Linked DNA regions of Homo sapiens: region 2 is linked to region 1. The links come from fine-mapping of genetic effects on gene expression. A gene starts in region 1. The other region holds a variant in brackets. All regions are shown on one strand. Distances are between the middles of the regions.

Region 1 (5,000 bases):
ATAGGGCTACTGTGAAGGTTAAATGAGATAGTTTATGTAAAATGTTTAGTAAAATGCTTGCCCTATAAAACCTGGGTAGCTGTTGTTGGTGCTGATGCAATGAATAGGGCCAATAACTAGACAGAGAGCTGCAAGAACTGGGGATGAGATGGTGTGTCTTAACATAAGTCCTAGACTCCTTGCCAACTTGCTAGAATAATGTTTTCTGCAAAAATTGACACATAAGAAGTAGAGGCTTTCTTTAAACTAGATCTAAAATGAAGACTGGCTATTTTATTTGCTATAATGCATGCCAGCTAATCCAATATATTTGATTAACACACTTGATCAGTCTAATATATTAGATTCTCACTATGGAAACAGTGGTGATTAAATTAACTGATGGCGGATAAGGTGAAAAGAACTAAGCCAATCCTTGAGAGACTAGAACACAAGATAGATTAGTTCAGGGATTGGGCCACTATTTATTAACAGGATTGCTACTTATGGGGCAATTCTGTGTTAGGATAGATGGTCCTGTGCAGGAAATTTGGCATGCCTGGGCTGTGCTTACTAAATGCCAGAAGTAACCCCTGCTGCCCCAGTCTTTGTGATAACTCCAAATATCCCACCATTTCCAAATGCCCCAGGACTGCTTCCTGTGAAGAACTATTGAGGTGTGGAAGGACATCTAGTGGTAGATTGGGAATATGACCCAGCATTTCTAGGTCAGTTTCAGTTTATACCCGCCATGATTATGCCTGTGGCCCTTTCTCTTAAATATGCCATGGTTTTACTTGGCTCATTGGAGATGGCTGATTCCTGGCCTGGGGCTGGGAAAAGGACAAGATAAGCCTGGAACATCATGTTGTGCTGGCAAGTGAGGACATGCCCAAAAATGCTGAGAAACATGTCAACAGAAACACGCACCAAATTGTAGGGCTCTTGCTGACCCCAGTCAGCAATCTAGGCATAAAAAGAAATAACTATGGCAACAAATTATAACCCACAGAATAAAAGAAGAACCTATGATGTAAATTTAAAAATGGGAGAGAAGGGAAATTTCTTCCTTAAAGTAGAGAGACTGCTAATAAGTATAGAAGAAATAATGAAATTAGAAAATCATCATTTGGAAACCTTTATAGCATTGATTCAGACAGGAATCTACACTGTATGGTAAGTGCTGTGAGTGAAAGTTTAAGGAGTATCAGGATGGCTATGTACTCTTAAAATACTTGTCAGTTGCAAAAGGAAAAATAGTATCTTTACAGTGGAGAAATCTGACAATAACATCACTAGTAATGGGACAAATTGATATACTGTGTCTGCTGATACTATATACTAAGAGGAACATAGCATCATTCCTGGTGTATAACTCTCAAAAGCACATAACCTTAATCTATTCAGAAGGAAACATCACACAAACCCAAAGTGAGAGAAACTCCACAAAATATCTAACCTATGCTATTTAAAAATGTTGATGTCATAAGATACAAAGAAAGACCAAGGAACTGTTCTAAGTTAAAGAACACTAAACGTACATGGCAACTGAATACAATACATGATTCGGGGTTTTTTGTGCTAAAAAGGATGTTCTTGGGATAATTGGTGACATTTAAAGCAGGTTTGCTGATTACCTGGGACATTTTTAGATGGATGGATAGGTAGATAGGTAGGTATTATAGATAGACTGATAGAGGAAATGATAAAGCAAATATGAAAAATATTAACATTTCAGGAATATGTGTACAGGGTACATGGGGGTATTTGTACTACTCTTGAAGATTTTCTGTAAACCTGAAATTATGTCAAAACAAGAAGCTAAAAATGAAAAATGTCCTGGTTGGGAAGACACATATGGTTGCTCAACCCATAGGGGAAGAGCTGGCAGAATATGATGGCTGTGACCTCTGCACGGTACTGAAGATATGGGCAACATGTTGAGCAAGGGCTGCTGTTATATTGAGAAGTGAGCTTTAGAATTGTTCAGCAAGTTTCTTCTTGTTCAGACCAGTATAGGCTTTCCTGGTAAGCTACTGTGCAATGTATTTGTTAATTATTAGCTCAGAGAGAGATTCAGCAAGTGGGCTTACATCTGTTCCCATGAAACACCATGAACTTCACACTCTCTGGGGAGGTCTAGGACTCAGAAATATAGATGTTAGTAAGAGCAAACAGACATAACAGATAACACATACAAAGTGCCTACCACATGCTAACCACTGCTGCAGGCACTTTCTATAGAAGAACTAATTTAATCATCACCATAACCCTATGGGGTAGATGATATTTTTACAACCTCCATTTTACAGATGAAGAAACTGAAGCATAGACCTGGTGAGTAACTCACCCAAGTATTAGTATGGAGGGGAGCTGGGATTGAAACACCAGTTATGGTCATTCCAGAGGATGAATGCTCTCTTCACCACTCTCCTCTTCTGCTTCCTGAGGGGCTCTGAGCAATGAAACTCTTCTTTCCAGATTGTGCTTATAAAGCAAACGAGGTGTCCAGGATTAGACCTCTAGAAGAGTCTGAGCTGTTGTACCCCATACTGGGGCAAAGTAAGTTGTTTGTGCTGAGTGGGGAGTGGAGCCAAAGCTCAGAGGAGGCATCGGAAGGTAGGAGCAGATATGCGGAGCAGACTAGCAGAACAGTCGCATGGCCAGAAGAAAGCTGGAGGGTTGGGCCGAGGTTGGGTCACTAGATAGCAGAGTGAGAGGAAGCAATGCCCAGCCTAGTGGGTGGCTGATCAAGGCAGAAACTGGGGGGTCAGTGTAAGAACAGGCTGGGCTTCAGAGCCAGAACTCATACACAAAATATTCTGGATTTATTCCTTGGGAAGGCTGTGTTCCAGTGTGTCTGATAAGGCCTTGGCCTCATCTTTCTGGTGGCACTCACCTTTCCCAAAAAGTAGCTAAGCCTAATCTTTGTCACTAAGGAAGTGGGGAACAAACACTGGCCGACACCTGCATCCCAGGCTGTGTGCTAGGTATTTAACATGTATTATCTTACTTAATGCAATGTTTTGAATAAGTGTACCTGAGCCAAACTGCCTACTGTGCACATATATATTAGGTTGGTGCGAAAGTAATTGCTGTTTTTGCTACTAAAAGTAATGGCAATTACTTTTGCACCAACCTAACAGAAGGAGTGACTATTCAAAGTGTGCACTCAACTTTCAGTTCAGTGAAATTTGGATTGTTTATTGGAGCTTGATGCAATTGTAATTAAATAGAATAATATAATTAGATAATTTTCACTGTAAGTGCAATACAAATATAGGTACTCAAAACACCACAGGTAGTAGAAAAAGCAGGCATGCTCTCATCGAACCAACATGGCAATTTTTGCGTACAACAGGAAGCATCAAACTCAATGAACTATGGAGGCCAGCTCAGGCACAATTATAGACATAATTTCTTAATCATCGTAACTATCTGAAGAAGGCAATCATATAATTTCAGCCTTTTGTGGTTATTGTAGGATTTAATTCAGTAAAGCATATAAAGCATGTGGCTCAGTGCCAGCCACAAGGGAGGCCCTGAATGCATGGCACCTGCTCTGCTCATTTTCTCAAGAGAGAAATGAAGCTTAGTGAATGTAAGTAATATGTCGAAAGCCACAGAAATAACAAATGGCAGAGAGAGGATTTGAATTCAGGTCGCTAGACTTTGTCCTCCATTTTTGTGCAGCTTTCAAACTAAGAATAACTTTTACATATTTTACTGGTTAGAAAATATTTTTTAAAAAAGAAATATATGCCCAGGCACATGAAAATTATATGAAATTCAAATATCTGTGCCATAAAAGAAGTTTTAGTTACACAGCCATGCCTGTTTGCTCATGGCTGCTTTCATGTTACAATGCCAGAGTTGGGTAGTTGACACAGAGATCATAGGACCTGCAAAGCCTAAAATATTTAATATCTGGGCCTTTACAGAGAAATTTGGTTGACCCCTGTCCTAGACCTTAGACCCCTGCTCTTTCCATTATTCTCAAGTGCCGGTGGATCCAGATCGGTTGTGACATTGCTTAATCTCCTGGCATTCTTGGGGAATTATTAAACTGCCATGTAGGTTGCATAAATGCTCCCTGCTGGCTTGAATAGGAGAGTTTTGAAGGTGCCAGATGGGAACAGATTCCTTTCTTTCATCTTAACAAAAATCCAATCTCACTCTCTTTCATGTTCAAGAGCATTTGATTAATTAGGACAGGAAGTAGGGGGGCGGTGGGGAGAACAATCCGAGCTGTTGAGCTGGACTGAGCTGGCAGTTTCAGGTGCTCTCATTTCAGCTTCTCCTCCCCATGTCTAGCAGGCTCCCTGAACTCCCAGCTGAGTGTAATCAGAGGCTGTGTAATTGGAGGGTGAATGCACAGGCTTTATATTCAGAGACCTGTATTTGTACTGTGATTCCCTACTTGCTAGTTGTATGGTTTTGCACAAGTTATTTAACCTCCTTCGGTCTCAGTTTCTGCAGGTCTAACATGGGCATAATGAGAATACCTATGGCTTTGAGTAATTTGGAGGATTAAAAGCAAACATATATGAAAAGATTTTTTTCCCTAAAGAGGTGGCTCAATGAGCATTCAGTAAATACTAGCTATTACTATTATTTTTTTTTTCTGCCTGCTTGTCAGTAGGGAAGGAGCTAAGTTTCTGATCCTAGTTTAAAAGCCCTTAAAGGTGTTTTTAGGACATTTAAAAAAAGTAATACCTGCACATAATACAAAATTCAGGTAGCACAAATAATAAAAATAAGCAGCTCACAAAATGATGTATCCTGGACTGTTCAAGGCAGCAGTATTCATAGTAGCCCTAAACTGGAAATGACCCAAATGCCCACCACTAGTGGAATGAAAAAAGCAACTGTAGTATGTTCACACAGTAGAACACCATTCAATAAGGATAGTAAACTGTCTGCAACTATACGCAGCAATGTTGATGAATCTCCTGAATCTAATGCTGAGCAAAAGAAGTCAGAAACAAAAGCACACATACTGTAAGGTTCTATTTATGTAA
Region 2 (5,546 bases), 150 kb before region 1:
TGGGATGCAGTCAAGTTGCTCTGAAACAGTTTGATCCTTTTGGGTCTTGATTTTGTCATTGTTTATGTGGGTCCAGAGCAGTTCTCAGTCTAGGGCTATGTATTCCCTACCACTGAGGTATGACTTTCCTGAGTACTCCACCAGTCTACCACAATTTATGTTTTTTTCCAGTCTGGCTGGTTAGAACAGGCACTATTCACTATCCTGTGTTTGCCCTGGACACTGTTCTCTGATCCTTCCAGGTGATTTTCCCTCAGCCTCAGGTCATTTCCTTAAAAATATATGCTAATCAGTGCTTTGCTGAATACTTGAAAAGGAACCTCCACAGATCACTCTCTGTGCAGTTCTCACCTTTTTGGTACTCTGTCTTGCAAACTCTACCTCTCTTCATCTTTCTAGACTCTCAGCTATGTTTCTTGACTTCAAGGAATCTGTCAAGTTCTATCTAGGCTTTTTCTCCTGATGCTATAGCCTGTGAACTCTCTGAAAAAGGTATTATGGACAATGACAGGGCTCACCTCATTAGCTAGTCATCTCAGGAATCACTCTATTTGTTGTCTAATATCTAGTAACTTGAAAACATTTATTTCATATATTTTGTCTGTTTTTCTTGGTTATTTCAGTAAGAACATATATACAGTTCCTGTTACTCTATATCTGGTGGAAACAGAAGTTCTTAACTTTATATTTTAGCAGAAAGTTTAAGTTAAATGTAATTTTGTTTTTGCTACCACTTATTATAAAAACAAAAATCATTGAATTGAGAGACCCAGGAATATTGTAGGGTCCTCATGTTTGGAGATCTTAACAAAGGGGACAGATGGCATTAGTTATGGGTGATTGTTTATTAAGAATTCCTTCTGATGTATGTGACAGAAAATGAATGCAAACCTTCAGCAAACACGCACACACACACACACACACACACACACACACACATAGACAACTTTTTGGCTTAATACAACTTCTGGGAAGTCCAAGGAGTTGGGCCAAGCAGATCTATCACTCAAAGTTTGAATGACAGTTCCAAACACACATGTTCTGTTGACCTGTGAGCCAAGATAAAGAGAACAATCCTCTTCTCTACAGAAATAGTCTGATTATCCCTGTTTGAGTCATGTGAACACTTCTGGATTAATTAGTTTCCAGAGAAATAAATATTTCAATTACTCTGTGAGTTTAGTTTAATTTGGATTTTGTTCTCTAGCCTCTCTGAATTCCCTGACTCCCCACCTATCTCCATGATTGACAATCTCATTAGAATCTCATGCAGTGGGGGAGGGACCCTGGCTAGTCAAAAATTTACCTGTGAAACAACAGGGAGCTATATCAGATGATCTGGCAAGATTTCCACCTACTCTAAAAATTTATAGTTCTAAGGATCAAAATGTTATTAAAAGGATTTGAAAAATGTCAACTATAGGGCTTCAAACAATGCATTATAAATTGATTCTCAAGAATCATTTCTTAAATCTTTAATGTTTTTCTAATTTTTAAAGTAATACACGCTTATTATTAAAATTTTGGACAATTGAGAAAATCTCACTACTCAAAGAAGACCCCAATAACATTTCAGTGTATGTCTGAATTAATAAATAACTTGATTTATTTGAATTAAAAGAAAGAAGACCTTAATAAAGACTGTGAGCGCTCTTTATTTTACATGCTTATAGGTGGAGTTGAACAACAAATCCTGTCATTTATGCACCCAGTAAAAATGAGCAGATTTTTCCATTAATTCTGGCATATGTGCGCTTGTGAAAGTCTTATGCCTCTAATTACTTGCTAGTGTCTGCTCTGCCCTGTGCACTGCTCAATAAGATGCACATCATTCAGATCCAGTCATTGTTGCTGTATTCTATTGTGTCCAAGCTTCACTACAATTTGCATTTTATCATGATATATTTCAGAAGAATCTTTTTATTTATTTATTTATTTTTTAATTATTATACTTTAAGTTTTAGGGTACATGTGCACAATGTGCAGGTTAGTTACATACGTATACATGTGCCATGCTGGTGTGCTGCACCCACTAACTCATCATCTAGCATTAGGTATATCTCCCAATGCTATCCCTCCCCCGTCCCCCCACCCCACAACAGTCCCCAGAGTGTGATGTTCCCCTTCCTGTGTCCATGTGATCTCATTGTTCAATTCCCACCTATGAGTGAGAATATGCGGTGTTTGGTTTTTTGTTCTTGTGATAGTTTACTGAGAATGATGATTTCCAATTTCATCCATGTCCCTACAAAGGACATGAACTCATCATTTTTTATGGCTGCATAGTATTCCATGGTGTATATGTGCCACATTTTCTTAATCCAGTCTATCATTGTTGGACATTTGGGTTGGTTCCAAGTCTTTGCTATTGTGAATAATGCCGCAATAAACATATGAGTGCATGTGTCTTTATAGCAGCATGATTTATAGTCCTTTGGGTATATACCCAGTAATGGGATGGCTGGGTCAAACGGTATTTCTAGTTCTAGATCCCTGAGGAATC[A/G]CCACACTGACTTCCACAATGGTTGAACTAGTTTACAGTCCCACCAACAGTGTAAAAGTGTTCCTATTTCTCCACATCCTCTCCAGCACCTGTTGTTTGCTGACTTTTTAATGATTGCCATTCTAACTGGTGTGAGATGGTATCTCATTGTGGTTTTGATTTGCATTTCTCTGATGGCCAGTGATGGTGAGCATTTTTTCATGTGTTTTTTGGCTGCATAAATGTCTTCTTTTGAGAAGTGTCTGTCCATGTCCTTTGCCCACTTTTTGATGGGGTTGTTTGTTTTTTTCTTGTAAATTTGTTTGAGTTCATTGTAGATTCTGGATATTAGCCCTTTGTCAGATGAGTAGGTTGCAAAAATTGTCTCCCATTTTGTAGGTTGCCTGTTCACTCTGATGGTAGTTTCTTTTGCTGTGCAGAAGCTCTTTAGTTTAATTAGATCCCATTTGTCAATTTTGGCTTTTGTTGCCATTGCTTTTGGTGTTTTAGACATGAAGTCCTTGCCCATGCCTATGTCCTGAATGGTAATGCCTAGGTTTTCTTCTAGGGTTTTTATGGTTTTAGGTCTAACATTTAAGTCTTTAATCCATCTTGAATTAATTTTTGTATAAGGTGTAAGGAAGGGATCCAGTTTCAGCTTTCTACATATGGCTAGCCAGTTTTCCCAGCACCATTTATTAAATAGGGAATCCTTTCCCCATTGCTTGTTTTTCTCAGGTTCCTCAAAGATCAGATAGCTGTAGATATGCGGCGTTATTTCTGAGGGCTCTGTTCTGTTCCATTGATCTATATCTCTGTTTTGGTACCAGTACCATGCTGTTTTGGTTACTGTAGCCTTGTAGTATAGTTTGAAGTCAGGTAGTGTGATGCCTCCAGCTTTGTTCTTTTGGCTTAGGATTGACTTGGCGATGCGGGCTCTTTTTTGGTTCCATATGAACTTTAAAGTAGTTTTTTCCAATTCTGTGAAGAAAGGCATTGGTAGCTTGATGGGGATGGCATTGAATCTGTAAATTACCTTGGGCAGTATGGCCATTTTCATGATATTGATTCTTCCTACCCATGAGCATGGAATGTTCTTCCATTTCTTTGTATCCTCTTTTATTTCCTTGAGCAGTGGTTTGTAGTTCTTCTTGAAGAGGTCCTTCACATCCCTTGTAAGTTGGATTCCTAGGTATTTTATTCTCTTTGAAGCAATCGTGAATGGGAGTTCACTCATGATTTGGCTCTCTGTTTGTCTAGGAATGCTTGTGATTTTTGCACATTGATTTTGTATCCTGAGACTTTGCTGAAGTTGCTTATCAGCTTAAGGAGATTTTGGGCTGAGACAATGGGGTTTTCTAGATATACAGTCATGTCATCTGCAAACAGGGACAATTTGACTTCCTCTTTTCCTAATTGAATACTCTTTATTTCCTTCTCCTGCCTAATTGCCCTGGCCAGAACTTCCAACACTATGTTGAATAGGAGTGGTGAGAGAGGGCATCCCTGTCTTGTGCCAGTTTTCAAAGGGAATGCTTCCAGTTTTTGCCCATTCAGTATGATATTGGCTGTGGGTTTGTCATTGATAGCTCTTATTATTTTGAAATATGTCCCATCAATACCTAATTTATTGAGAGTTTTTAGCATGAAGGGTTGTTGAATTTTGTCAAAGGCCTTTTCTGCATCTATTGAGATAATCATGTGGTTTTTGTCTTTGGCTCTGTTTATATGCTGGATTATATTTATTGATTTGTGTATATTGACCCAGCCTTGCATCCCAGGGATGAAGCCCACTTGATCATGGTGGATAAGCTTTTTGATGTGCTGCTGGATTCGGTTTGCCAGTATTGTATTGAGGATTTTTGCATCAATGTTCATCAAGGATATTGGTCTAAAATTCTCTTTTTTGGTTGTGTCTCTGCCCGGCTTTGGTATCAGAATGATGCTGGCCTCATAAAATGAGTTAGGGAGGATTCCCTCTTTTTCTGTTGATTGGAATAGTTTCAGAAGGAATGGTACCAGTTCCTCCTTGTACCTCTGGTAGAATTCGGCTGTGAATCCATCTGGTCCTGGATTCTTTTTGGTTGGTAAGCTATTGATTATTGCCACAATTTCAGAGCCTGTTATTGGTCTATTCAGAGATTCAACTTCTTCCTGGTTTAGTCTTGGGAGAGTGTATGTGTCAAGGAATTTATCCATTTCTTCTAGATTTTCTAGTTTGTTTGTGTAGAGGTGTTTGTAGTATTCTCTGATGGTAGTTTGTATTTCTGTGGGATCGGTGGTGATATCCCCTTTATCATTTTTTATTGCATCTATTTGATTCTTCTCTCTTTTTTTCTTCATTAGTCTTGCTAGTGGTCTATCAATTTTGTTGATCCTTTTGAAAAACCAGCTCCTGGATTCATTAATTTTTTGAAGGGTTTTTTGTGTCTCTATCTCCTTTAGTTCTGCTCTGATTTTAGTTATTTCTTGCCTCTGCTAGCTTTTGAATGTGTTTGCTCTTTCTTTTCTAGTTCTTTTAATTGTGATGTTAGGGTGTCAATTTTGGATCTTTCCTGCTTTCTCTTGTGGGCATTTAGTGCTATAAATTTCCCTCTACACACTGCTTTGAATGCGTCCCAGAGATTCTGGTATGTTGTGTCTTTGTTCTCTTGGTTTCAAAGAACATCTTTGTTTCTGCCTTCATTTCATTATGTACCCAGTAGTCATTCAGGAGCAGGTTGTTCAGTTTCCATGTAGTTGAGCGGTTTTGAGTGAGATTCTTAATCCTGAGTTCTAGTTTGATTGCACTGTGGTCTGAGAGATAGTTTGTTATAATTTCTGTTCTTTTACATTTGCTGAGGAGAGCTTTACTTCCAAGTATGTGGTCAATTTTGGAATAGGTGTGGTGTGGTGCTGAAGAAAATGTATATTCTGTTGATTTGGGGTGGAGAGTTCTGTAGATGCCTATTAGGTCCACTTGGTGCAGAGCTGAGTTCAATTCCTGGGTATCCTTTTTGACTTTCTGTCTTGTTGATCTGTCTAATGTTGACAGTGGGGTGTTAAAGTCTCCCATTATTAATGT

Alleles and levels. Alleles are on the strand shown, and positions count from the first base shown. SD is a standard deviation of normalised expression in the study named.
With allele A in place of G in region 2, the expression in fetal neocortex of the gene that starts at base 2,118 in region 1 is lower (moderate effect, 0.55 SD a copy in Walker 2019).

Evidence for each region. PIP is the estimated chance that this variant, and not a neighbour inherited with it, causes the effect. A credible set is the group of variants that fine-mapping cannot tell apart.
Region 2: its variant is the best candidate, but not a certain one, in a credible set for the expression of NPSR1-AS1 in fetal neocortex (Walker 2019, PIP 0.77).

The regions. Positions count from the first base shown.
Region 1 is chr7:34,755,390-34,760,389 of GRCh38, reverse strand. It overlaps NPSR1-AS1 (NPSR1 antisense RNA 1), which reads left to right and starts at 2,118. Exons shown (of 4, transcript NR_033665.1): 1 at 2,118-2,316. All of the region lies in intron 2 of NPSR1 (neuropeptide S receptor 1), which reads right to left.
Region 2 is chr7:34,908,642-34,914,187 of GRCh38, reverse strand. No RefSeq gene overlaps it. Among named protein-coding and RNA genes, the nearest start is that of MIR548N, 29 kb to the left of the region's middle. The variant A/G (reference allele first, on the strand shown) is at 2,504.